Regions from separate parts of the Homo sapiens genome. Here regions 1, 3, 4, 5 and 6 are each linked to region 2. The links come from fine-mapping of genetic effects on gene expression. A gene starts in region 2. Each other region holds a variant in brackets. All regions are shown on one strand. Distances are from middle to middle.

Evidence for each region. PIP is the estimated chance that this variant, and not a neighbour inherited with it, causes the effect. A credible set is the group of variants that fine-mapping cannot tell apart.
Region 1: its variant is the best candidate, but not a certain one, in a credible set for the expression of PPP1R9A in nasal epithelium (TOPMed, PIP 0.55).
Region 3: its variant is the best candidate, but not a certain one, in a credible set for the expression of PPP1R9A in tibial artery (GTEx, PIP 0.73).
Region 4: its variant is the best candidate, but not a certain one, in a credible set for the expression of PPP1R9A in lung (TOPMed, PIP 0.65).
Region 5: its variant is the best candidate, but not a certain one, in a credible set for the expression of PPP1R9A in whole blood (TOPMed, PIP 0.58).
Region 6: its variant is the best candidate, but not a certain one, in a credible set for the expression of PPP1R9A in atrial appendage (GTEx, PIP 0.65).

What each region holds. Positions count from the first base shown.
Region 1 is chr7:94,881,087-94,885,088 of GRCh38, reverse strand. No RefSeq gene overlaps it. Among named protein-coding and RNA genes, the nearest start is that of PPP1R9A, 25 kb to the left of the region's middle. The variant T/G (reference allele first, on the strand shown) is at 2,310.
Region 2 is chr7:94,905,748-94,909,749 of GRCh38, reverse strand. PPP1R9A (protein phosphatase 1 regulatory subunit 9A) reads right to left here and starts at 2,156. Exons shown (of 20, transcript NM_001166160.2): 1 at 2,048-2,156. RefSeq lists an enhancer at 1,339-2,099.
Region 3 is chr7:94,975,015-94,979,016 of GRCh38, reverse strand. The region is part of intron 2 of PPP1R9A (protein phosphatase 1 regulatory subunit 9A); the gene reads right to left. Among named protein-coding and RNA genes, the nearest start is that of PPP1R9A, 69 kb to the right of the region's middle. The variant G/T (reference allele first, on the strand shown) is at 2,058.
Region 4 is chr7:95,294,566-95,298,567 of GRCh38, reverse strand. It overlaps PPP1R9A (protein phosphatase 1 regulatory subunit 9A), which reads right to left. Exons shown (of 20, transcript NM_001166160.2): 20 at 2,168-4,002. PON1 (paraoxonase 1) reads left to right here. Exons shown (of 9, transcript NM_000446.7): 9 at 1-892. Among named protein-coding and RNA genes, the nearest start is that of PON1, 28 kb to the left of the region's middle. The variant T/C (reference allele first, on the strand shown) is at 2,060.
Region 5 is chr7:95,311,783-95,315,784 of GRCh38, reverse strand. PON1 (paraoxonase 1) reads left to right here. Exons shown (of 9, transcript NM_000446.7): 4 at 295-463. Among named protein-coding and RNA genes, the nearest start is that of PON1, 11 kb to the left of the region's middle. The variant C/T (reference allele first, on the strand shown) is at 1,700.
Region 6 is chr7:95,171,802-95,175,803 of GRCh38, reverse strand. All of the region lies in intron 5 of PPP1R9A (protein phosphatase 1 regulatory subunit 9A), which reads right to left. It overlaps PPP1R9A-AS1 (PPP1R9A antisense RNA 1), which reads left to right. Exons shown (of 4, transcript NR_183324.1): 2 at 715-857. Among named protein-coding and RNA genes, the nearest start is that of PPP1R9A-AS1, 41 kb to the left of the region's middle. The variant A/G (reference allele first, on the strand shown) is at 2,423.

The DNA.
Region 1 (4,002 bases), 25 kb after region 2:
CAGAACACTTATATAAGCCTACAGTTGGGCAAAATCATCTGTCAACAAAGTACCTTATATTGACCTAAAAGGAAGAAGCTGGCCGGCACGGTGGCTTACACCTGTAATCCTAGCACTTTGGGAGGCTGAGGCGGCTGGATCACCTGAGGTCAGGAGTTCAAGACCAGCCTGACCAACATGGTGAAACACCATCTCTACCGAAAATACAAAAAATTAGCCAGGCATGGTGGCAGGCACCTGTAATCCCAACTACTCGGGAGGCTGAGGCAGGAGAATCACTTGAACCCAGGGGGCGGAGATTGCAGTGAACTGAGATGGTGCCATTGCACTCCAGCCTGGGCAACAAGAGCAAAACTCCATCTCAAAAAAATAAAATAAAAGGAAGAAGCTGAGGCAAAATTAATATAAGTAGAGTTTATTTGGCCAGCCTTGAGGATTGCAATACAGGAGCATAGATTCAGATTGCCCTGAATATACACTCTGATCAGTAGCAGTTACAAGTGGATTTTTAAAGGCAAAAAAAAAAAAAAAAGATGGGCACAGGGAGCGGGCTGATACAAATTTGTTTGTTCAGAAATTCTCATTGGTTTATAGAAATAACATTGATTAGTGATTGTACATTGTTAAGCTATAGGGTATGGGTTAGCGTGTCCACTGTGGCATTATTGGGCTAATTTATAGCTACTTGTGGCAATAGCCAGAAGTTTCAAGAGATGAATACATAGCTCAAAGGTGGAGGAGGGAGTGATTGCTGTCTCATTTTAATGCCTCTCTGGGCCTAATAATAGGAAAGGGCTCATATTCCTCAGATGAAAGTTCTCTTTATTCCTCACCTGTGGAGTATCAGTTGTGGTCATCCTTGTGATTGTGTGACCGACTGGGTGCTGACACTTGCTGTTGATGCCCTACACCACAAGAGTAGCATATTGCTAGCCCTGAAAAAGATCATTCAACACTTGAAGTACAGTTTCCACTGACTGTATGACTTTCACACCATCATACAGTTGAAAAATCCGAAATGGAAACATTGTAATGAGGCAGGATAGTAACCAGGTAGTCAAGAAAGTAACTATGTCCTCAGGATTCAGCAACAATGCCGCCCCAATAAGCCCAGTGTTTGCATTGTAGTCAAGCTCATTCAAGCAAAACTATCTCCAGTAGGAAACCTCCCCTGTAGAGAGCATGTGCATTGTGATTTGACCAGTCATCAGACTGACCCTTTGCTTATTATAACAGTAAAAATCACACCCCTGGGTGGAGCTTTAAAATATTAATGAGACATGTGATGTATAAACAAGCATGTACAGCTACTGTGCATGTGCACCCAGAGGACCACCCAAAACATGCTTCCTAGCAACCTCTTCCCACCCCCTTATGAATAATCATGTAAGCCTCCATAAAGGGAGTTTCCTTAGTAATGGTCAATGCTGTCTCATCCTCATGAGCAGTCCCCTCTGAATTGCCTCTTAGGGTATACTGTCTATTCTGAACCTAACTTTCAGAGTATTCTTTCTCCTTTGCAATAAATTGCTCTATGCAATATCTCCCTTGCTGTGTGTCTTTTGTTGAAATTCTTTTAAACTAAGAAGACAAGAACCTAGGATTCACAACAGCCATCAACAGTAAGTCAGGGACCATCTGTAGTGTGTAGTTGGATGGACAGGCAAGGTTATCATTGATTTTGTCAACCAATTCTTTCAAGAGTTAAAAACAACAGTTCTTGTCTTACTAATTGAGTCTTTACAAAAACAGAAATGCAGCTCTAGAGGTAATGCAAAGCCCACCTATGTTTCTTACCAATCTCAAAATTCATCTCAAAATGCTTGTAGATAATGTAGTAGAAGGTCAGGACATTGCAAAAGGGACTGTCCTATACTAAAAAAAGAAACTTAAATACTAATTACTCTAGGTTCTGATAATAGGCAAATATGCTCCTGAACTCCTCCTTAGAGCTTTAGAAAGCTAACATCATTTCTCTGTCATTCTGTGGTCAGAATGAGTTGGGACAGAGCAAGTAATCAGAATGAGTCAGGGAGGAGCAGGTAATCGGAATGAGTCAGGGTGGAGCAGGTAACCGAAAAATGTTGCTTTATGAGGAAATAAAGTTTAAAAGTAGAAGGCAAAGAATTGAACATACTGACATATTGATTCTTTGAAGAGAAATTTAGAACTCATATCTAACATTCCCTCCTCTTGCATCTTCCTTACAGTTCTTTCTCTTCAAACTTCTTTAACATGTCTTGGCTTAGTTGTTCTGCTTGATTTTCCAAAAGAAGAAGCTTCTCTGGATAAGGTGGAGGATAGCTAAG[T/G]GAGGTTTTAGTAAGTGCCATTCTTTTGAGCCTCTGCACCAACCCACAGATGCATGGTGTGACATAGCACCCGACAAGAATAAGTACACCCATTAAGACTGTGAGTGAAGTAAGAATTGAGGCTATTATTCTTTTCCATTTACTGAACCATTGTTCTAGCCATCCTGTAAAGAGGTCATTTACCCTGAGTTGTTGGCTAACTCATTGGACAGAGCAGTCAGACCTTGCAATGTCTTTGTTATACTTCCATCAGGGGCGGTGTTGTCTGGGATGAAGATACAACATTGAGTTTTAATTATGATGCAAACTCCTCCTTTTTTTGCAAATATCATGTCTAAGGCTATCCTATTTTTTCCAAGCCATCTGGCTAGTAGCCCCTAATTGCTCAGCTATTCCTTTAACAGCATTTCTAGTGTAGTTAACAGATCGCTGTTGGTTTTAATAGATGTAGTTTATCTAATCTACATTTTATTAATTGTCACCCACCAAAATATTGACTCAAATCCTGCAGGTGTTTGATTTCGGGCTTTAAATTGATCTGGTATTCCCCATGGGACTCTAATTGTGTCTAAATAGACTTGAGAGTCGAAAGACAAAGACACATAAGGGGCTTCTTTTGCTTTACGATGTCTTATTTTTCCTTTCTCTGACTGATGAAATGCAAGGGTGAACCAATTGGACTAAAGCACAAGTGCCACTTCAGTTACTTGGCAGAGTGTCCAGTCAAGGTCCGCCATAATACCAGTACACATCTGCTCAGGGATGAATAAAGGCTGATTGATTGGTAAGCTCCTGAAAATTCTTAAGGTCACTGCATCCCTTCAGGTCTCCAAGGAACACTAAGTTGCCTCCCTGTCGTGAGGGACATAAAATGAACTTAGTGTTGAGAGACGGAAGCTGGATAGCCCTCGGGGGCTGACCCTCAGGGTGTCAAACTTTGGGATATAGCAGACAGAGAGCTTGGCACAACTTGTTACCTCAGGCTGCAGAATCCTGGAAAAGAGCTACCATGCAGCCCACACCCGGTCGACTGGAGGACCACCCTAGTGGAAAGGGGACAATCTGGGCCTCTGGCCTGCTGTGCACACAAGCATAACAATTGCCTTTGTTTAACGTATGGACGGAATATTTAATCCATTTTAACCAGGCATTTACGGCTTTATACCCCGTTTCAATGGCTATGGTTTGCCTTAGGTTTCCTATTTTTACTACTGAGACCTTGCTTTTGTCACTTGGCATAAGGCGAGTCATAGTTTGACTTCGTAGGTTTGGAAAAGGGGCAGCTGTAGGAGGTGGAGAAGGGAGAACAAAGCACACCTTAAAGAAGCCTATAGGATCTTTTCCAGTGACTTCTGCTCCTAACACAGAAATGCTCTAAAGTGGGGTTAGAGTTGCTAGGGTTAGGAATAGTAACGGATGTAAGCACCGGGTAAGGAAAGGAAAGGAAAAGATAGATAGACTAAGCTTCCCTTAGCTTTAATTTGGTAGGGCTTGATCCAGGAATAATGGCCCATGATTCTGATAATAATGGCACTTGCTTGACTCAGGTGTGATGTGTCCATCCTTTTCCACTGTACGAACAGCAGTCTCGGTGGTTAGTAGCACAAGGTAGGTCCTTCCCAGGCTGGCTCAAGTTTCCCTTCTTCCCACCCTTTGATGAAAATGTGATCCCCAGGCCGATGCTGATGTACTG
Region 2 (4,002 bases):
GTTATCATTCTGATTGGTCTTTGGTAAAAAAAAAAAAAAAAAAGTTCCAAACACAATTTGGAGATACCTATCAAAATCTCACACACACACAAACACATACACACACTCACAAATACAAGCTACACATAAGTATATTTGAAAGCAATACTTTAGCCCAAGTTTTGGTCGCTTTTGTGAATGCCCTTTAAAAAGAAACCAGCAGTTCATCGATCTTTAAGAAATCATCAAACTGTCCAGAAAATCAACTTCATTTAGGATTCTCCACAATTAGGTAGAACTTATTCTTTCTAAGTACAATTAAGTTTGGAATCTATGTTTACAAACTCCAAAACATGCCTACAGCGGCATATTTTACTTTTTTTGGTCCAATGTTCTCATCTACAGCATCCCCAAAGCAATACTAATGCAATTTCAGATCAAAACAAGGAGAAAAAAAGTTCCTGAATAGCAATAAGTTTCACTAAGTTCAGTTATAACAAGTATTTGGAAGTTTCCTAACAGTGGTTATTATTAATTATGGAGTGGGATGCAGACTACCAAGGGAATAAATGCGTAAGAATGTGACAATCAGAAAGCAAATATACTGTGACACCCCTTTTCACAGCCCTGATTTGTTTATTCTTTCTTGCCTCTAACTTACTACAGTTCAACACGCAACGCAATGCATGCTTGCTGGTCTCTTTAAGCCCACAGCAGGATTTTATATCAATAAGCCAGCAATCAAATACTTCAAGATATGCTGAGGAGCAGACAATGCAGGCAGTTCTAAAGATTTTTCATTTTATTTTTGTTTTGTTTTGATATTAGACCGAGCCACATCACCCTCACGCACAATCAGCTGAGGAGGCACACACTTTCACTTAAACCGTCTCCAAACTCGGCTCCTGGCCCAGCACGCATGCATGGCCCATGCAGACAAACAAGAAAGGCTTTGGAGTGTGGTGCCTGTTTTTTTCTTTTTTTGTAAAGCATCGACAATCTCCTTTTACCCTGACCATTCTTTTTAAAGCCACAAACACCCTCCCCTCTCCCCTACACACACCCCCCATTCCCTCCCCCGCCAATTCCAACCCAAGGAGGCGGGGGCGGGGGAGATGGGGCCGCCGGGGGATTCAAAACCTGCCCTCACAAAAGACAAACATAAATAACACCAACTTGAGAGGCAGCCGATTCCCAAGCCCGGTTCGGGACGCAATCCCTCGGCCCTGGGGCAGGACCGGGAGAGCAGGTGACGCCAAGCGCTATGGTAGGAGGTCGCAGTCTAGCTTTGTGCCAAGAAGCACCTGAAGTCCTAACACATTGGCTGCAGCTCCCGGCGGCTGCCAGGCGGATCCCACTGTGACACGGAGAGAGACGAGCTCCCTGGCCACATTTAAAAAAATAGAAAAGAAAAAAAATTACAGGGTAATGAAAATAAATCCCTTTGTTTTTCCTCCCAATGTGCCAGGAAACAATAGATCCCACTGATAATGCCTCCGATCTTCAACCTATTGCTCCTCCACCACAACCCACCCCCACCCCCAGCCTGCAACTCAGCCTTTGTACAAGCCGATTTTTTCCTCCTCTCCACCCTCCCCAACTCCTCGCCCCGCGCTCAGCCTCCCCCTTACCCGAGCGGGAGCGCCGCGGGCGGGGAGGGTCGGGCCGCCGCGGCTCCCACCCCCTCCTCGCAGGCGCCCCCCGCCCCACGGTGGACGCGGCGGCTCGGCTCGGCGCCGGCCCGCTGGGTACACCGCAACCCGCTCCTCACGGCGCAGCGCGTAGGGCGGCTGCGGCGGCCGCTTCCACTCGCGCGTCGGCCCCCAGGCGCTCCCTGCCCGCGGCGGGCGGCCCCGGGAGGCGCGCTGCGCTCCCCAACGCCATTGCGGGCGGGCGGCGGCCCGAGCAGCGACGCGCCCGCACGCTCGGGCCGGCCTGGGGCCAGGGGTGCCGGCCGGGGAAGGGGTTTGGCCCACGTGCGGTCGCCACGCCGGGCCGTTTCGGCGGCCGCGGTGTAATGGAGGAGAGGCCGCGGGGGTGAGGAAGGCCGGGGTAACAGGTGCCTCACCTCGGCTGATGGGATTAACTCTAGGGCCGCAGAGAGAGGGAGCCCGGCAGCAAAATCCCGGGAGAGGGAGAGAGAGGGAGCCTCTGGCGGCCAAGGAAGGGCGAAAAGCACCGGCCCGAGGCGAGGCCGCCCCACCCCCTCGGCCGTGGGCGAGGGGCCTCTCCGGCCTGGGGCAAGGCCCCTTCCTGTTCGGGTGTTGGCTCCGGAACTTGGTTCTGGGGCTGACCGCTGCTGGGGCCCCACTTAGTCTGAGTCTGCAGTTAACTCCGTGACCCCAAGGCATCCAAGTCCCAGGCCACTCTGCTGACCTGGAAGGCCAAGACGTAGGCCCAAGTCTGGTGTGGCCTTCACCTAAGCCACTGCGCCTGGCCTACTACTCACCTTGACCTTAAGATCTCACTGCCAAAGAGAAAGGGATGAGGAGGTCTTCTACCTTTCCTGTCTAGGGAGAGTTTTTCAGCTCACTCCCCCCCGAACCCCGCCCTTTTCTAAAGGCTCAGTACAACCTCTTACACCCCCAAGTACCGGAAGTGTTACCACCTTCCTGCAAGATATAAAACTGATCATGACTGTCAATACAGATGTTTAAACCAATCCTTCCAAAAAGCCTAGGGAGCAGGAACTCTTAAAAAATAATTTTTCAAGAAGGTAAAAACATGACAATGGTAGAAATATAAAATGAACATTGGTCAAAATTTTTATAACTCTTTTAATTAGGAAGGGAACCCCAGCAAGATACTGCAACCCATTCACGTGAGACTGTGAAGAGTAGACATAGAGGCAAGAAGAGGCAAATCTGCTTACTATTCTATAGAGCACTGAAATGTAATGTTTATTATTATCTGCTTTACAGGGCGGTAACCAGTTGTATCTGTAAAGTAACAAATTTGCATTCTGTAGATAAAACTCATTTACATTACCAAACGTTTCTACAGCTTACTGAGTAGTAAAATAGCCTAGTGAAAGTCAGTCTAAGTAAGGTGCAGACGACTGTAAATTTCACAACACTCCGGAGTCCTGTAGATAACATCCAGCATTCCATTGAAAGGACAAACAGTAATCTTTTGCTCATTTCAAAGTCTTTCACAAGTTTTCCCAACATAACTATTTTTAGCCCCATTTCACTGATGGAAAAACTAAGGTTTAGGTTTTGTAACTTACCCGCTTCTTTATTGGCTATTAATAGTAAATGATTATGGCTGAATATGAACCCAGGCAAGTCCGTACACAAATTCTATATACTCTGGGAGCAAAATCTTTTCATTTCAGAAGGATTTTGTAACTACTCAATACTCAGTTCTATGTATTTTTTAATTTTAAGCAGCAAGGGCTTTTTTTTCCTTTAAGCATCACCAAATTCTGGGTCCTTTCCCAAGAAATTGGCATTCTCTGTCTACGAAGTGGATGTCACTTCTATAAGCATAAACAGATGTAACAGGCAATGTGAGGGGGCTGTGGTTCCAGGCTCCACTTTTGGAAAGAACATTTCTGCTGTCTGGGATAATCTAGTGGAAAAGTTCCTGTCATTTATTTGCAGTATGGAAACCAGGTTTTTTAGGCGAATAACCTAAATAAATGCAGAATCTAATCACTGAGTTCTGTCTGTAGAAGAGGGGGCAGAGTTGGCAATAAAGACAGTCTTACACCTCTTTGCAGAAAGATGATTCATACAGAAAAGCACCCTAAAGGATTTGGTTGGTTTGAGTTTTATCTTTTGAAAATCTGAAACTTCTGGAAAAGTTCATACTGAAGGAATGATAGAGTTTTAAACCCGATGGTGAGAATTTAAGATTCCTAGATTTCCTATAATGGACCTTCCATTTCCAACACTTACTTGAATGTTTGAAGGGTCTATTAGACTGCTAATCCAATACATGCGGCTATTTAACTTTAATTAAAATTAAATACAATTTAAAATTCAGTTCCTTAGTCACACAAGCCGCATTTGAAAGGCT
Region 3 (4,002 bases), 69 kb before region 2:
GAGACCAGCCTGGCCAACATGGCAAAACCCCATCTTTACCAAAAATACAAAAATTAGCTGGGCCTGGTGGCACATGCCTGTAATCCTAGCTACTCGGGAGGCTGAGGCAGGAGAATAGCTTGAACCCAGGAGGCGAAGGTTGTAGTGAGCTGAGATCACGCCACTGCACTCCAGCCTGCGCAACAGAGCGAGACCGTGTCTCACAAAACAAAACAAAAACTGTTGATGTTTTAAGAAGAAGCACTACTCTGAACATCTAAATTAAATGGATTCTGGAAAATAAATCAGTCTAGAATTTTCAGAAATGTTGAAAAGTTGAAACAGTATTCAGAATACTTACACTAGGTCATTATTTCATTCTAAATATGACTGGTGTTTATTTTGGGAAAAGCACTCAGCGAAGAAACCACTGAATGAAAATGAATGCAGCCCACAAAAAAAAGATCAAGATAGAAAAAAGTGTCGAGAAATGAATTGGCAATGTAAAATTTTTAAGCAGCCTCCAAGAAAAGGAGTAAGTTTTTAGGAAAAATACTATCATGCCTAGAATTATTTATCAGGCTTTCATAACTTTACTGAAGGAGAATCTGTAATATTTATTCAGTCTTTCAAGCATTTATTCTTTCAGTAGCCATTTACATGTCACATAAAAATTTAGTCTACTCTATAATCATAAATCAATTAAAAACATGCAGGCTCTATATTTAGTAGATAGCCATAATTTGGCTTTTTGGTACAATTCAATCTCAGGTAAACTGAAACAATTTACTCTCCTAGATTATTCCTTAGCTAGGTATCTTATAAGAAATCACTTTATGGCCTAGGAGAATTATGCCACTCCCCATTCCCTATCCCTCAACGTTCACAGGCTTTGCATCACAATCTACTTTGAAGACACTGGAGCTAAACACTCACTTTATCCCCTTCATATCAGTCACCACAAGAAGCCCAAGATGGGCCGGGCATGGTGGCTCACGCCTGTAATCCCAGCACTTTGGGAGGCCGAGGCGGGTGGATCATGAGGTCAGGGATTCAAGACCAGCCTGGCCAATATGGTGAAATCCCATCTCTACTAAAAATACAAAAATTAGCCGGGCATGGTGGCACGTGCCTGTAGTCCCAGCTACTCAGGAGGCTGAGGCAGAAGAATCGCTTGAACCTGGGAGGCAGTGGTTGCAGTGAGCCGAGATCACGCCACTGAACTCCAGCCTGGGTGACAGAGCAAGATTCCATTTCAAAAAAAAAAAAAAAAGAAAATGAAAAAGAAGACCAAGATACCCAAGTCATCCTTCACCACCTAGCCTCTTATCACCATAACATTCTCTATATCCCCTGATTTGGCCTCATATCCCAACCATCCTCTCAGGAACTCATTGTCAATTGTCTACAGATTGATAAACAGTCTGACTTGTTAATCTTCAATTTAATTATCTCCTCTAAATTCTCTCCTGAACTCACCCCATTCAAGCTTTTGTCCCACCTCTCCATGAAAATGACTCCATTCAAAGATTACCAATGTCTTCAATGTTGCTCAATGGTCAATTCTCATCTTAGTCGAACCATCAGCAACATTTAACAAAACTGATCACCCCATTTTCTTGAAACATGTTTCTTAACTTGGCTTTTGGGGAACCATCTACCTCAGCTATTCTTGATGGTCACAGTTGCTCTTCTTGGTCTACTTTGCTGATTCCTTGTCTTCCCAGCCCCTCAATAATGGAGAGCTCTGGGGCTTGTGACTCGAATCTCTTCTTTTCCTATATTCACTCTCTAGTGACAACTGCCAAATTTCTCTTCAACCCAGACATCTCCCCTAAACTGCCTTTCGAACACCTCAATTTGAATGTCTAACAGGCACCTCAAGTTTAATATGTAAAAACCATATCCTTGATCCCCTCTTACTCCCACAAGCCCCCATATCCTTCAGTCTTCCCCACTGTAGGGAAAGGCAATTACAGGATTCTAGCTGTTTAGACCAAAAACCTGGCTGATATCCTTTACTCTCATATACCATAGCCAATCTGTTAGCCAAGTTGGATCTACCTTCCCAATATATC[G/T]CAACACACACTTACTTATTCAATTCTCATTTATTCTCTAGATCCCCAGCAAGAATATAACCTACATAAAGAAGGGACCATGTCTGTTTTGGTCACTGTAGTATCCCCAATACCTAGAATAGAGCCTGACACCAAGCAGATACTCAATAAATACATGTAGAGTGAATGATTAATAAATAAAAGATTCCAGATCCTTGATTCCATTCAAAATAACAGCCATCCCATCAAAGTAAAACATTCCCTGAGGCTGAAGTTAAAACAGCCTTACTCCCTGCTAAAAAGAACCTCTTTTATTTAATGAACACATATATTCACCAACCACAACCAGTCAAAACAAAATATGCATTAAGAATAAAACATGTTAGGCTGAGATAGGTGGATCACGAGGTCAGGAGATCGAGACCATCCTGGCTAACACACTGAAACCCCGTCTCCACTAAAAATATAAAAAATTAGCCAGACGTGGTGGCACATGCCTATAGTCTCAGCTACTCGGGAGGCTGAGGCAGGAGAATCGCCTGAACCCAGGAGTCAGAGGTGCAGTGGGCCGAGATCACACCACTGCACTCCAGCCTGGGTGACAGAGCGAGACTTCATCTCAAAAAAAAAAAAAAAGAATAAAACATGTTAAATATAACAGATAATGTATTATGCATGACTCACCAAAGAACTAAAATCCAACATAATAAACAATGCCGTAATAATTTTTGTATTATTTTATGTTATTAATAATTTAGTAGGTATTTTAGTTTTCTGTCCTGTACAATACCAGTCATCACCATACTTGACAGATAACAGATAATTTCCCAAATAAACTTTATATCATAAGCCCTTATCAGTCTCTTTTAAAGACAGAAAGTGATTAACTCTGTTAATCAATGCTGGCTAAAAAAAATACAGGAGCACTAACCATTTTGTAACCAAACCTGAACACACAATCCCTGATATAGAGACATAAACTTAATAATGACCCAACATTTAGAGAGAAAAGAGAAAGTAAAGAAAGAGGAAGACAGAGAAACCGGGGCTACTTTCTAAAATAGTAATCACTAGGGGAATGAATAACCTGAAATTGTACCTTTATAATTGAGAGGAAGGGGTTAAAAATGTACAATTAATAAATTACTGGTTTTTATGAATGACCAGTGACATCTTCTGAGAAGACCCCAATCCAGCTAAGCAAAGATAACCTATTTCTTTCAAACTGATTTGGGATATATTTTCCCACAGAAACAAAAATATCAACTCAATAAATGGAAATTGTACAGTTAATACTTAAAGTACATTTGGGTGAAAAATATTTGTGAACTGGCCTGGGAACATAGCCAGTAATTTTTGTACTGCTTCAATAAGGAAAAAAAAAATGTGTTCTGAGTTCCAAACAGCTGTCTTACACATAAACTTCTGAAACACAACTAGCTCATGTTCTGGAAACTGTGTATACAGGTTATATTTCAAGGGATTCAATTTGGCCCACAGCATTTCTGAATATGTTTAAGAATGAGTCACTTTACACTAGACCTCTTCCACTCAGATGCAGTTTCAAAGACCTCTAGCTTCAAGGATCTTAATCCTTAAAAAAAAAAAAAAAAAAAAAAAAAAACAAAAAAAAACTACAGCCTGTCCAGAGGTAAATGGAAATGTTGAACATTTTATAAATCTGCAGCAAAGCTAAAAGAACAGCTTCAAGCTACCAGGCTACTTTTCTTCATCTATGAATAAACTAGAGTAAACTTCCTTTATCACAGTGATTCATATCAATTTTTAGGTTATAGCACAATGTCACTGCTTATTTGATTTTGAGACCAGAGTATGTTATATACTAAGATTCTTCTAAAGACTGCAACACAGTATTTTTTTTCCAAATTAAGAGAAGAGTTCATTTTTTCAATAATTTAAAAATGCTAGCTAAACTTATCTGAAAAGCTCCCTAAGGGTCCTGAAA
Region 4 (4,002 bases), 390 kb before region 2:
ACACAGGGGAGCAGGGTTAGCTCACGTGTCTTTAGAACTCCAGTACTCACCCAGGGACTCCAGTTCACAGGCCAGAAAACATATGCATTATGAAGTTCCCCTCTACTCCATGCACATAGTAAGTCTGACTATGGCAGTCAGACTTACTTACTCCCATTTTCCCTTCGATATATGACTTTTTCTCAGTAAATATTAACCTGAATTATTCCAACTCCCCTTGTACTCTTGCTTTTTCAATTCTCCTGTTGCAATGACACATAGGAAAATCTTAAAATTCTTGGGAGTGTTGTCACACCTGAAAATTATGAGTCTCTATGATCTTGGCACAAATTGTACATTTGAGTGTCTTTGACTTGGTTAAAGGAAGTTTGTTCACTTCGATGACTGGATACAGAATGAATCCCATAATTGACATGGGCGAAGCTAAAAGTGTCCCCAAAGACTACACTGTTGTTGAGGTGGTGGTAGTGCTGGTGGGTTTTTGTTTAATATTTAAACTTCTTGTTGTGGAGGCTGAAAAGAAAAAAAATAATAGAAAGGTAAACAAACAAATAAATAGAAAAGATCAACAACCCCTTTGGCTATCTACTGAGACATGACTAGGAAGAAAACATGACTTTATCATTTTGTTATAGAAACTGATATATAAAGGTTACACATTTTCATTTATTTGTTTTTCTGATTTGAAGGTATAACCTTCATGATGAATTACTTCTTCAGGGTGTTAAGGCAGTGACTTTAGAAACAAATTTTTTTCTTGTTTTTGTTTTGTTTTTGAGACCGAATCTCACTCTGTTGCCCAGGCTGGAGTGCAGTGGTGCGATCTTGGCTCACTGCAACTTCTACCTCCGAGGTTCAAGAGATTCTTGTGCCTCAGCCTCCCGGATAGCTGGGACTACAGGCACACACCACCATGCCCGGCTAATTTTTGTATTTTTAGTAGAGACGGGGTTTCACCATGTTGGCCAGCCTGGTCTCGAACACCTGACCTCAGGTGATCCACCCGCCTTGGCCTTCCAAAGTGCTGGGATTACAGGTGCGAGCCACCACACCCAGCCAGAAACGAAGTTTTTCTAAGGCACTTGTTATGATGATAGTCTGGCATTTCCGGGAAAATGTTTTGCCAATAAATTGAGAACCACCAACAGTTGTTTAAGAATCACTGACTTGAAGTAATAAACAGGAACATTTTGTTTGGGTCAAAAAACCACTTTATTCACAGCAAGATTGGAGTTACTCATGATTCCAGTGACATAATATCCCGTGCCCTACATGGGCTCAATTTTTCTGAGATGCTGCTCACAGCCCAGGATGCTGGGTTCTCTGAAAGACTGTCTTGAAATTATCAATGAGTGTGATGCTTAGGGAACACCCCCAACATATTTCATTATTTAGAAAGAAAGAATTTCCTGAGTAGTTAGGCTCCCTAACATCTTCAATAAAATGACCACATTCTGTTCTTTCTTGTTCTTGATGATAGATAAGCAAATTCCACTGAAGAAACAAAAGCCTATCCAATTTGACACAGCACATACTCAAGATCACTCAAAAAGGGACATGGCTTGGTTAGAAATTTCATAACATACATTGTGAAAAAGAGGAAAACAGCTTAATTCATGTATTCTGTGATTCCCAGATCTAAATTTTCGCACTGACATAGGCTTAGTCACATATAAATTATAGTTTGCGTGTGTAAGAATGAATGAAATTAATAGCCCTCACTTATTTTTAAGGCTTTAGAAAGAATATTGTTTAAAATAACCCCATACTCTACGATGGTCCTGATTCTTCCTTAGCTTGCCCCTCGCTATGTGAGACTGACTACTTAATGGATTTGTCACAGAGGTTTTCCTGGCTGAGAGATATCAGAGACTTTGATGGTGAAGCAGCGACAGGGGAACAAAATGACGGGCGAGGAAGCTTCGAGTGCAGGCTTTGCTCTTTTAACTTTATGCCCAGTTCCATAATTGTGCTTTCAAATGTAATTTCTAGCTGCCAATTTACACTTTACCACAGTTAAGACTTAGTTTCATTTCCATGAAAAATGTGCACTTTGCTC[T/C]TGATTGACAGATATATGCTTTGACAATTGATACAGGTTTACCCAGTCAAGGCTTGTTTTAGTTGAAGGTGAAAATGGAAGAGGGAAAAAAAATTGCTTCAACAGACCTCAGTATTTCTTTTTATTGCATTCGTTGTCTAACAACAATAATACTCATTGGCAAGAAATTTATTTACACTAACAAATTAAATTTAATCACAGGTATTGTTAGATTGGTCAGAAAACAAAAGACCACTGTGATATTTTGCTTGAATGCCTCTGAAAACCAAAGAGTAAGGAATGTCATTTGAAACTTTTTGAACAATCTAGAGAAGTACATATTAACCAAGCACAAGAGAACAATTCAGACGTGGCACTATTGTCTCTTCCATGCAAATGATCAGACATCAAAATGTACAAATTAAAAGCTTAGGTAACATGCTATCCATACTTATCAGACTTAAAATTATTTTCAAACAATTCGTGTTCTTTACTGATATACAAAGAAAGCTGAAAAGAAATCAACTTCTTACAGTGGAATAGAATTTATTCTCTTTTATTTTCAGCTGCCCAGTTTTGTCAGTAAGGTGTAGCAGGTGTACAAGTGGTTGCAACACCATTAAAAAATATAAAAGCAGTAGTTATATTAAATAATGTTGAAGAAAACATATACATATATATTTAAGGAATTTCACTAAGCACTAACTAAATTTCATGTTGTTGGGAGGTGTTATCTGGCTGGAGTGCCTCTTAATTCTTTTTAAGGTAATTTAATTATTTCTTGCCAATTGTTCTTTCTTGAATGAATGATTACATCCTTAACAGAAAACCTGGGTGTATAAATAATACAGCTGAAAGAAACAGAAGTGTACACCTTCCAACAACATACACTCCCAACCACTTGTGTTGTTTTTGGCAACAACCAAAATGCCATTGCTTGCACAAAAAGTAAATAAATGATCATATGATGGCAACATTCATCATAAGAGAGCCAGTAGGCAGTGACTGTAAGCATCACAGCCACCAATTATGTCATTTTAGAATTGTGAGCAAATTCACAAGAACACACAGTGCAATTTTTAGCTGCATACATTTCTTCTGAGCTCCAACTCAGCAATATGCAATCTTGACATCAAAGCATTAGCCAAATATTTGAGGAAATTTTCTTACTAAAATACCAAGTATCTGATAAATCAATTTTACCAAAATATATAAACATATAGAAGGATAAGTGCATTTAGTAGAAATACTTACAATAAAAAAATCTCTTAAAATCTATGAGCCATTCAATGTATACACAACGCAAGAAGTGGCAATAAGGCTATGATTACAGCTCCAGGTCCTGACTGACCTCGCCAAGTTCCATACACAATATATTTTTTAATGCCATGTGATTGCAGTGTGTGTGCGTGTGTAAGGTGGGAGTGATATTCACACATATGTAGTTCTGAACATCTACACAAACGGCATGCACATTGTTGAGAAGTTATCTGTTCTCTTATTGCATACATCTTACTCACTGTTGAATCCCTAGCAGTTTTGGGGTTGGGTTAGGGTCAAGCATAGGAAATCATCATATTTCTTTCCTTCTCCACTCTTGAGGATCTGGAATCAGGTCACAGACTGTGCTGGGTCCACACGCTTACATATGTGAACCTTCAAGTAACTACCATTCCCTCAATAGGCCCACATAGACACCACGGACAAGCAAATAAGGACCCTCTGTCTACCATAAATAGAACTTGATGCTTTCACTTTCCAGGAGAAGCTGATTCTGTCGGCTTTCTCTTTGCCCCTCCAACTTCTTAGTTGGGCCTATTCTATGCTGCTACTTCAAGTTACTCAAATGTGTTTTGTCTGGTGTTATTTTTTTCTCCAGTGTTTTGGACCAAGACTAGATTTCCTGAGACTTTAAATACGCAAGACAAATGCAAACAAAATCTGCCAACATACCCAGGCTGCTT
Region 5 (4,002 bases), 410 kb before region 2:
CTGCTCTTCCATTTTTGATCTTTCTCATGGGCTGGAAGCTGTAGTGTCGTGCACATATGACTTTGCTGCAGGGGATGAAAGGGTTTGTGTGGGGTGGCCTAGTGGAGCATGTGGCTTCCAGAAGACTTCTCCTGGGGACCCATTACAGAAGCTAACTAAGAGGCTTCCTATGTGGCCATCTGGCTAGCCCTGTGGTTTGGAGCAGTCAACATGAACCCATGGGCCATGCAGCGCCTCTATTAGCATTTGAAGTACTGGTATTGTGCTTGATTTTTCTCCTCCATGGTTTATAAGGGATTAAAGTATCCTGGAATAAAGAGCTTCAACCCCAACAGTCCTGGAAAAATACTTCTGATGGACCTGAATGAAGAAGATCCAACAGTGTTGGAATTGGGGATCACTGGAAGTAAATTTGATGTATCTTCATTTAACCCTCATGGGATTAGCACATTCACAGATGAAGGTAACAATATTTACTATTTATTAAAACCAAAACCAAACTTAAAACAAAAACAGAAAAACATGCCAATAAATGAATTATTTTTTCTCATTCAAACAAAGCATAGTCATGAATAATGTTCTTACTCTGGGTTTTAAACTTACCCTCTATGTTAATTGAACTTTATAGTAAAACCACTTAAATACTTGAGAATGCTAAAATATTTAAGATTTGTAAAGCATCTAATTTTGTAAAATACTAACATTCACATTATCCCTATAATTACCATAATAATAATATCCAGCCCTGATCATTATAGCTTTTCCATTTTAAACGATTTTCAAGACTCGGGCATTTACAGGAACAGATTTTTCTAACCCAAGGCATCTGTAAGCTATAGGTCCAGTGACAGAAAGTCACCATGGTCAGCTTTCTGCCGGTCCCATTATCTTCAATGCCTCCTGTCCGCTGGTTCCTCTGTTCTGTGTTCAAAATGCTCCTCTGCATGTTGGTCCCTTTCAACATAACTTGGTGTCATCCTTTATGTCTTTACTCCCTTTCTCCCTTTCCATTTGCTGTCACTTCCTTGTCTCTGTATTAATTTTCAGCCCCAGTTGCACAATGGTAGCACCTGAAGAGTTTAAAAAGACTCGATGCCCAGCCCCCAGCTTGACAGATTCCAATTCCGTTAGTCTGAGGGAGGCCTGGATCACAGTAGTTGTTAAAAGTTTTTCAGTTGATAAAAATGTCAGGCTAGGGTTAAGAACCACGTTTATACCCATTACCTCCATTTCATCATCAGACGATCCCTCATTCAGTTCCTCTTCTGGACTTTCCCCACTGTGGGTGGCTAAAATTGCTACCTTGAGAATCATCAGTGATGTTCCTACTAACAAATCTCCTCTCTTCCCTTCCTCCCTCTCCTTCCTTCCCTCTTCCCTTCCTTCCTTCCTTCACCTCCTTTTGTTTTTTGTTTTGTTTTGTTTTTGAGATGGAGTCTTGCTCTCTCCCAGGCTGGAGTGCAGTGGCGCAATCTTGGCTCACTGAAAACTTCACCTCCCGGGTTCAAGCAATTCTCCTGCCTCAGCCTCCTGAGTAGCGGGGACCACAGGTGCATGCCGCCATGCCTGGCTGATTTTTCGTATTTTAGTAGAGACGGGGGTTTCACCATGTTGCCCAGGCTGGTCTCGAACTCCTGAGCTCAGGCAATCCTCCCATCTCGGCCTCCCAAAGTGCTGGGATTACAGTTGTGAGCCACCG[C/T]GCCCAGCCTACTTCACCTGCTTTTATGCTGTTTACCATTTTCTCATTCACAAAACTTGCTCTTCCCTGATACTGCAGTGCACCTAGCTGTTCCAGTTCTCATCCTACTACAGGTTTTCTCCCCAATTCATTGTTTTGTCACTCATTGCTACTTCCCTGAGCACTACCCCAGAGGTTTGATCTTTTACTTCCTCTATATTTTCTCTATTTTAGAACTTTCAAACCAGTGTCACACTGCCTGCTTTCTAGGAGGACATCCCCAAATAGGGGTATTATTATTCTTCTTCTTTTCATTAGCCCTTCACTTTTAATGCCGCAGGTGCTTACTGGACACTTCTATTTGGATTCCTTTCCTATAGACACTTTAAACTCAAAATGTTGAAAGTGATTTTCCATCCTTTTATCTTTCCTTCTCTTCCCCATGTGAGACACACACACACACACACACACACACACACACACACACATATACATATATATCCCTTTCAATGGACTTTCCACTCATCCACCCATTCATCACCATTATGTTTTATTTTAAAAATATTTTTAAGTACAAAGAAATATAGTGTTTGATGTGTGGATACTTTTTAAAATAAAAATGAGGTAATATTACACAACCCCTTCTATAAATTTCTTCTGCATTAAACACTACATCATGGACTCCTTTATATATAGCACATTTGCAGTTGCTTTGCCAAGGCAGTTCGGGATTCAGTTGTGTGGGAGCACTGTAATATAGCTCATCTGCTAACAAATATTTAGGTTGTTCCCACCTTTATGCTCATTGCAAACAATGCCAAAATAAACTTTCTCGCACATGTATTTTCTGAGACTATATCCTTAGGATACATTTCTAGAAGTAGAATCCACTGCACAAAATGTGAATTCAGGTTTTAATCCTCACTTGAATTTGATTTCCAACACCCTCCTTCCTCAGCTGTATTCAGGGCCTTTGGATTCTTCCTGTCAAATGCCTCTCATGACCTTTCCTGCCTTTTATTGCCAGTGGCATCCTCTTGGTCCAGTCCTTTCTCTCCACATTGCTGGATTACTGCTGTAGCCTCAGCTCATGTTACTCCTTGGTTCAAATACCCCAGTGAGCAAAGCTTGGATCTTCATCTTAAGCCCTAACAAGACTGATTCTGGCTCCCTGTGGTTTCAGCCCTCTCACTCTCCCACTCTCTCTTGCCTTCACTCTGCTCCCAGCACAACCTCACAATTAAGTGAATATGTCCAGGAAGTTCTGCCCCGGGGCCTTTGCACACTCCCAGCACAACCTCACTATTAAGTGAATATGTCCCGGAAGTTCTGCCCCGGGGCCTTTGCACACTCCCAGCACAACCTCACTATTAAGTGAATATGTCCAGGAAGTTCTGCCCCAGGGCCTTTGCACACTTTCTCCCCTCAACCTGGAATGCTCTTTCCCTAGATATCCACATTATTCGTTCTCTTATTTCACTTAGGTTTTTGCTCTAACATCCCCTCATCAGAGAGAACATGCCTGACTCCCATGAAGATAATACTTCGTTACTCTCTATTCTTTTATCCTGTTGTATTTTTCCTTTGTAGCATTTAACGCCAACTAAAATAAATTAAACACTTGTTTGCTGAATGGGGTAATGAAAATCATTTTAGCAGCTTTCTCTGTTCAAATCTTCTCAATTCAACCTGCCAAATTTTGCATCTTAACATGGTGAAACCCCATCTCTACTAAAAACACAAAAATTAGCCAGGCATGGTGGTGGGCACCTGTAATCCCAGCTACTTGGGAGGCTGAGGCAGGAGAATCGCTTGAACCTGGGAGGCGGAGGTTGCAGTGAGCCGAGATGGCGCCATTGCACTCCAGCCTGGGCAACAGGAGTGAAACTCCGTCTCAAAAACAAAACAAAACAAAACAAAAACGCCAATTTGATCATGTCAGAGGTTTCAAAAGACCTACTCTTTCTTAAGGCAAAGACCATAATCTAACTTTTACTTGCCAGCTCTGATCACACATTCTTGACCGCTTAGACTGGTCACCTTTGTGTTCTTAAAGTCCCACTTATCCAAGGAAGCTGCTTCTGTTTGTTTGCTACTATTTCTCAGATGTTCTTCTATGGAATGTATCATCTCACACTGTGTAAATTACACCTGATCACACCTTCTCATATTGGGAGTTCCCATGGTTTTTATCCCTTTCATCGCAACTGTGCATTTCGTGGAGACCATTTGAACTGGAAAACTTAAAGGATTCTTTGGAGTTTTAGTGTCAGTGATACTCATTCTTGAGAATTTTTTTTTCTCCTGTGGAGTTTTGAGTTTTC
Region 6 (4,002 bases), 270 kb before region 2:
AGTTATTAAACCCATATGCTAGGGATAAAAGTGAAATGAATGCATAGTTATTGATCATGGGTAGCAGATAGTTTCTTGAAAGCATTTAAAGTTTAATGTGAATGACACTGAAGAGCAAACATATAAATCATTGAAAATTTCTTCAAATTGAAACAAAATCTCTGTCTTATATCAAATTTTGCCAAATTGCTGACAGTACTAGAATGATTGTCTGGAGTTAAAAAAAAATCTAATCCTTTTTCCAGAGTTCACTTTTTCAAATGCTTTATAATTATTACCATGTCTTTTAAGTTTTTTTTTTTTTAAAGGCAAAGGGTTATAGAATATTTTAACTTTTATATATAGAAGGAAAATAGTTATACCTCTCACCATCCTGGTCAATCTTTCCTAAATAGTCTCAAGTTTTTCAGGATTAAGTTGGGTATGCAACATAAATTAAATTATATTGTGGTATAGCATTAATCTATTTGCCCATCATCTGTCTGCCTGACTGACCATCCCTCCACATCCATCCATCCATCCATCCATCCATCCATCCATCCATCCAACTAGTTATTGATCCGTACTATGATAGGCTGCCTCTAACATAGACCCAAGTGATCCTTGACTCCTTTTATTTAAGTCTGAATGTAATTATCTATCCTTGCATGTAGGCTGGACATATTAACTCACTTTTATCAAATAAAATACAGAGCTGACGGGATGTCATTTCAGATTTTAGGTTACAAAAAGATGGCAGATTGCATCTTGGGCACTCTCTTGTATGACTTTTTGGAGAAGCCAGTTTTCATGTTGTGAGAGGCCTGGCAGAGGGGCCCAAATGAGTTCGCTGGGAAGCGGATCACAGAAACCATGAGGTAATAAAAGTTAGTTGTTTCAGGTCACTGAATTTTATAGTAATATGTTACACAACAATAGGTACACCAACTATGCCAGTGGTCAACAAGACAGGCAAGGTCCTGTTTATAGCTGTAGACTCAAGAAACATGAGTTTTCAAAAATTATGTTGCAAATTCATGTTTGATAAAAAAATTAGATGCAAGAAATTGTACAGAAAATATTTTCTGGTAAAAAGTCAATAATAATATTTTAAAAGTAAAAGTACACAGAACCATAAAATCTAGAGATTGCTAATGAAATTCACATTGATTACATCTGCCTTTGTTAAAGAGACACAGTCCTTTTCACATCACTATCACTATCAACAATAATCAATTCGTATGGTGCTTTTTAAGTTAACGATAGCTATTATCTCACATTTTAAAATTCAGTTTTACTGAGTTCAATCTATATACATTAAAATTGATCAAATTTAAGTTGTATAATCTGAGGAGTTTCGATAAATGTATACATAGTTGTGTAAGAAATACAGTAATCACAATATAGAACATTTTCATCACCTCAGAAATGGTCCTTCCTTCTTGTTTGCAGACAATTCCCTCCCTTCGTGATTCTGAGCAATCATAGATCTGCTATTAGCACAGTTTTGTATTTTCCAGAATTTTATACAAATGTATTCAAACAGTACACAGGCTATTGGCATCTGGCTTCTTTTACTCAGTATAATGGTTTTGAGAGTCATACATGGTATTGAAAGGATTGGTAGTTTGTTCCTTCATATCACTGGGAAATATTTCATTATATGGGATATAATACAATTTGTATATCCATTTATCAGTTAAAGAACACTTGAGTTGTTTCCAGTTTTTAGTTATTATGAAAAAGCTGCTATGAATATGCAAATATGAGTCTTTATATAAATATATGTTTTTATTGTTCTTGAGTAAATACCGAGGTGCGGAATTGCTAGCTGGTATAAGTGTATGCCTAACTTTGGAAAACCCTACCAGACTGTTCTGCAAAGTGGTTGTGCTATTTTGCATTCCGATCAGCAAATAAATGTGAACCTCAGTCCATATGCTTATCAATGCATAGTGGTATCAGTCTTTTTAATTTCAGCCTTTTTAGCAGGTGTACAGTAGAACCTCATTGTGGATTTAATTTACCTGCCCCTAATAACTAATAATGTTAAGCAGCATTTCATGTTTAATGGTATATCTACTTTGATGAACTGTCTCTTTAAGTGATTTGTACATTTTAATAGGACTTGCACATTTAAAAACTCCATTATATAGTTGTTATAATAATCTTATTGAATTACAAGAGTTCTTTATCAGAAAATTGTTTTACAGATATTCATTCTGTGGCTTGTTTTTCCATTTTCTTAAGTGGCTTGTTTTTCCATTTTCTTAAGGGTATTTTGTAACAAATGTTTTAAATTTTGACGCAGTTTATCATTATTTCCTCTTACACTTTTTGCTTTTGTGCCCTAAAAAAATTTTTAAATTGTTATATTGCATTAAAAATTTTTTTTCATTCATTTAGAGGGTATATATGCAGATTTGTTACATGGATATATTGC[A/G]TAGTAGTGGGGTTTGAGCTTCTAGCATACTCATCACCTTAACAATGAACATTGTGCCCAACAGATAATTTTTCAACATTCATCCTCCTCCAGTTCTCCTCTTTTAGAGTCCCCAGTGTATATTACCTACAGCGTTTCCCTCTGTATGTCCATGGATACCCATGTCTAGCTCCAATTTATATATGAGAATATAAGGTATTTGATTTTCTATTCCTGAGTTATTTCACTAAATCTAAAATTACAGATTTTTGCCTGTTTTCTAGAAATCTTAGTGTTCTAGCTGCTGCAATTAGGGTTGTGATCAGTTCTAAGTTAATTTTTATATATACTGTGAGATGAAGGTCAAGGCATTTTTTGGTTTGTATTTTGTTTTCAATGAGACTATTTAATTTTTTCAGCCCCATTTTTTGAGTTAACTATAATTTCCTCCACGGAATTACCTTGGTACCTTTATAAAAAAAAATCAATTCTTCATATCTGCGCAGGTCTGCACTGCAAAGTTCTATTCTGATCCATTAATCTATATTACTATTCTTATACCTCAACCAGATTGCCTTGATTAGTGATGCTTTCAGGCAGGGAAAGTCCTCCGAAATTTTTTTTAACAATAACATCTACAAAATAATCTTCTAAAATTTTTACTAGGGTTATGTTTAATCTACAGACTAATTTAGGGAAAGTTGAAATCTTAACAATATTGAATATTATAATACATTGAACATGGTCTACTTCTTCCCTCATTTAAATTGTCTTTGTGTTCTGTCAGCAATATTTTGTTGTTTTAAGTGTGGAAGTCTGCAATATATTGTTAGATTTACCTTTAAGTATTTAATATTTTGGATGCTGTCATCAATGTTATTTTCAATCTGAATTTTCAATTATTAATGTTGATAGTATATACACTCTGATTTCTGCACATCAACTTCATCTTCTGTAACATGATTGGACAACTTCATCTTCTATAACATGATTGGACTCAGTTATCAGTTCAAGTAGCATCTTTTGTAGATACTTTAGGATTTTCTTCATGGTCATCTGTGTATAAATGACCATATTGCCTGTGAATAAAGAGTTTTACTTCCTCCTTTTCATTCTATGGGCTTTCAATTAGTTATTACTGTCTCAGTGAATTAGCTATGGCCTCTGGTACAATCTTGAATGGAAGTGGTGAGGGTAGAGATATTTGCATTGTTCTTAATACCAAGAGAAAAGCATTAGGTCTTTCACCATTAAGAATGTTATTAGTTGCAGGCTTCACTAAGATCCTATTTATCTCATTGAGGAAATTCCCTTCTATTTCAAGTTTCCTGAGAGCTTTTTTAAAAAAATCTACATCTATTGAGAAGAACAAATGACTTTTACCTTAATCCTATCAGTAAGAAAAATTCCATGGGTTGATTCATAAACATTAAATCAACCATACATTCAAACAATAAATGTCACCTGGCTATTGGATTTATAATCCAATTTGGACTTCTGTATTTACATTCATGAGGAATATTGGTTTGTGATAGTTTGTATTTTAATGCCTTTTAAAAATTATACTATCATAGCAACATTGGCTTCATAAAAGTAGTTGA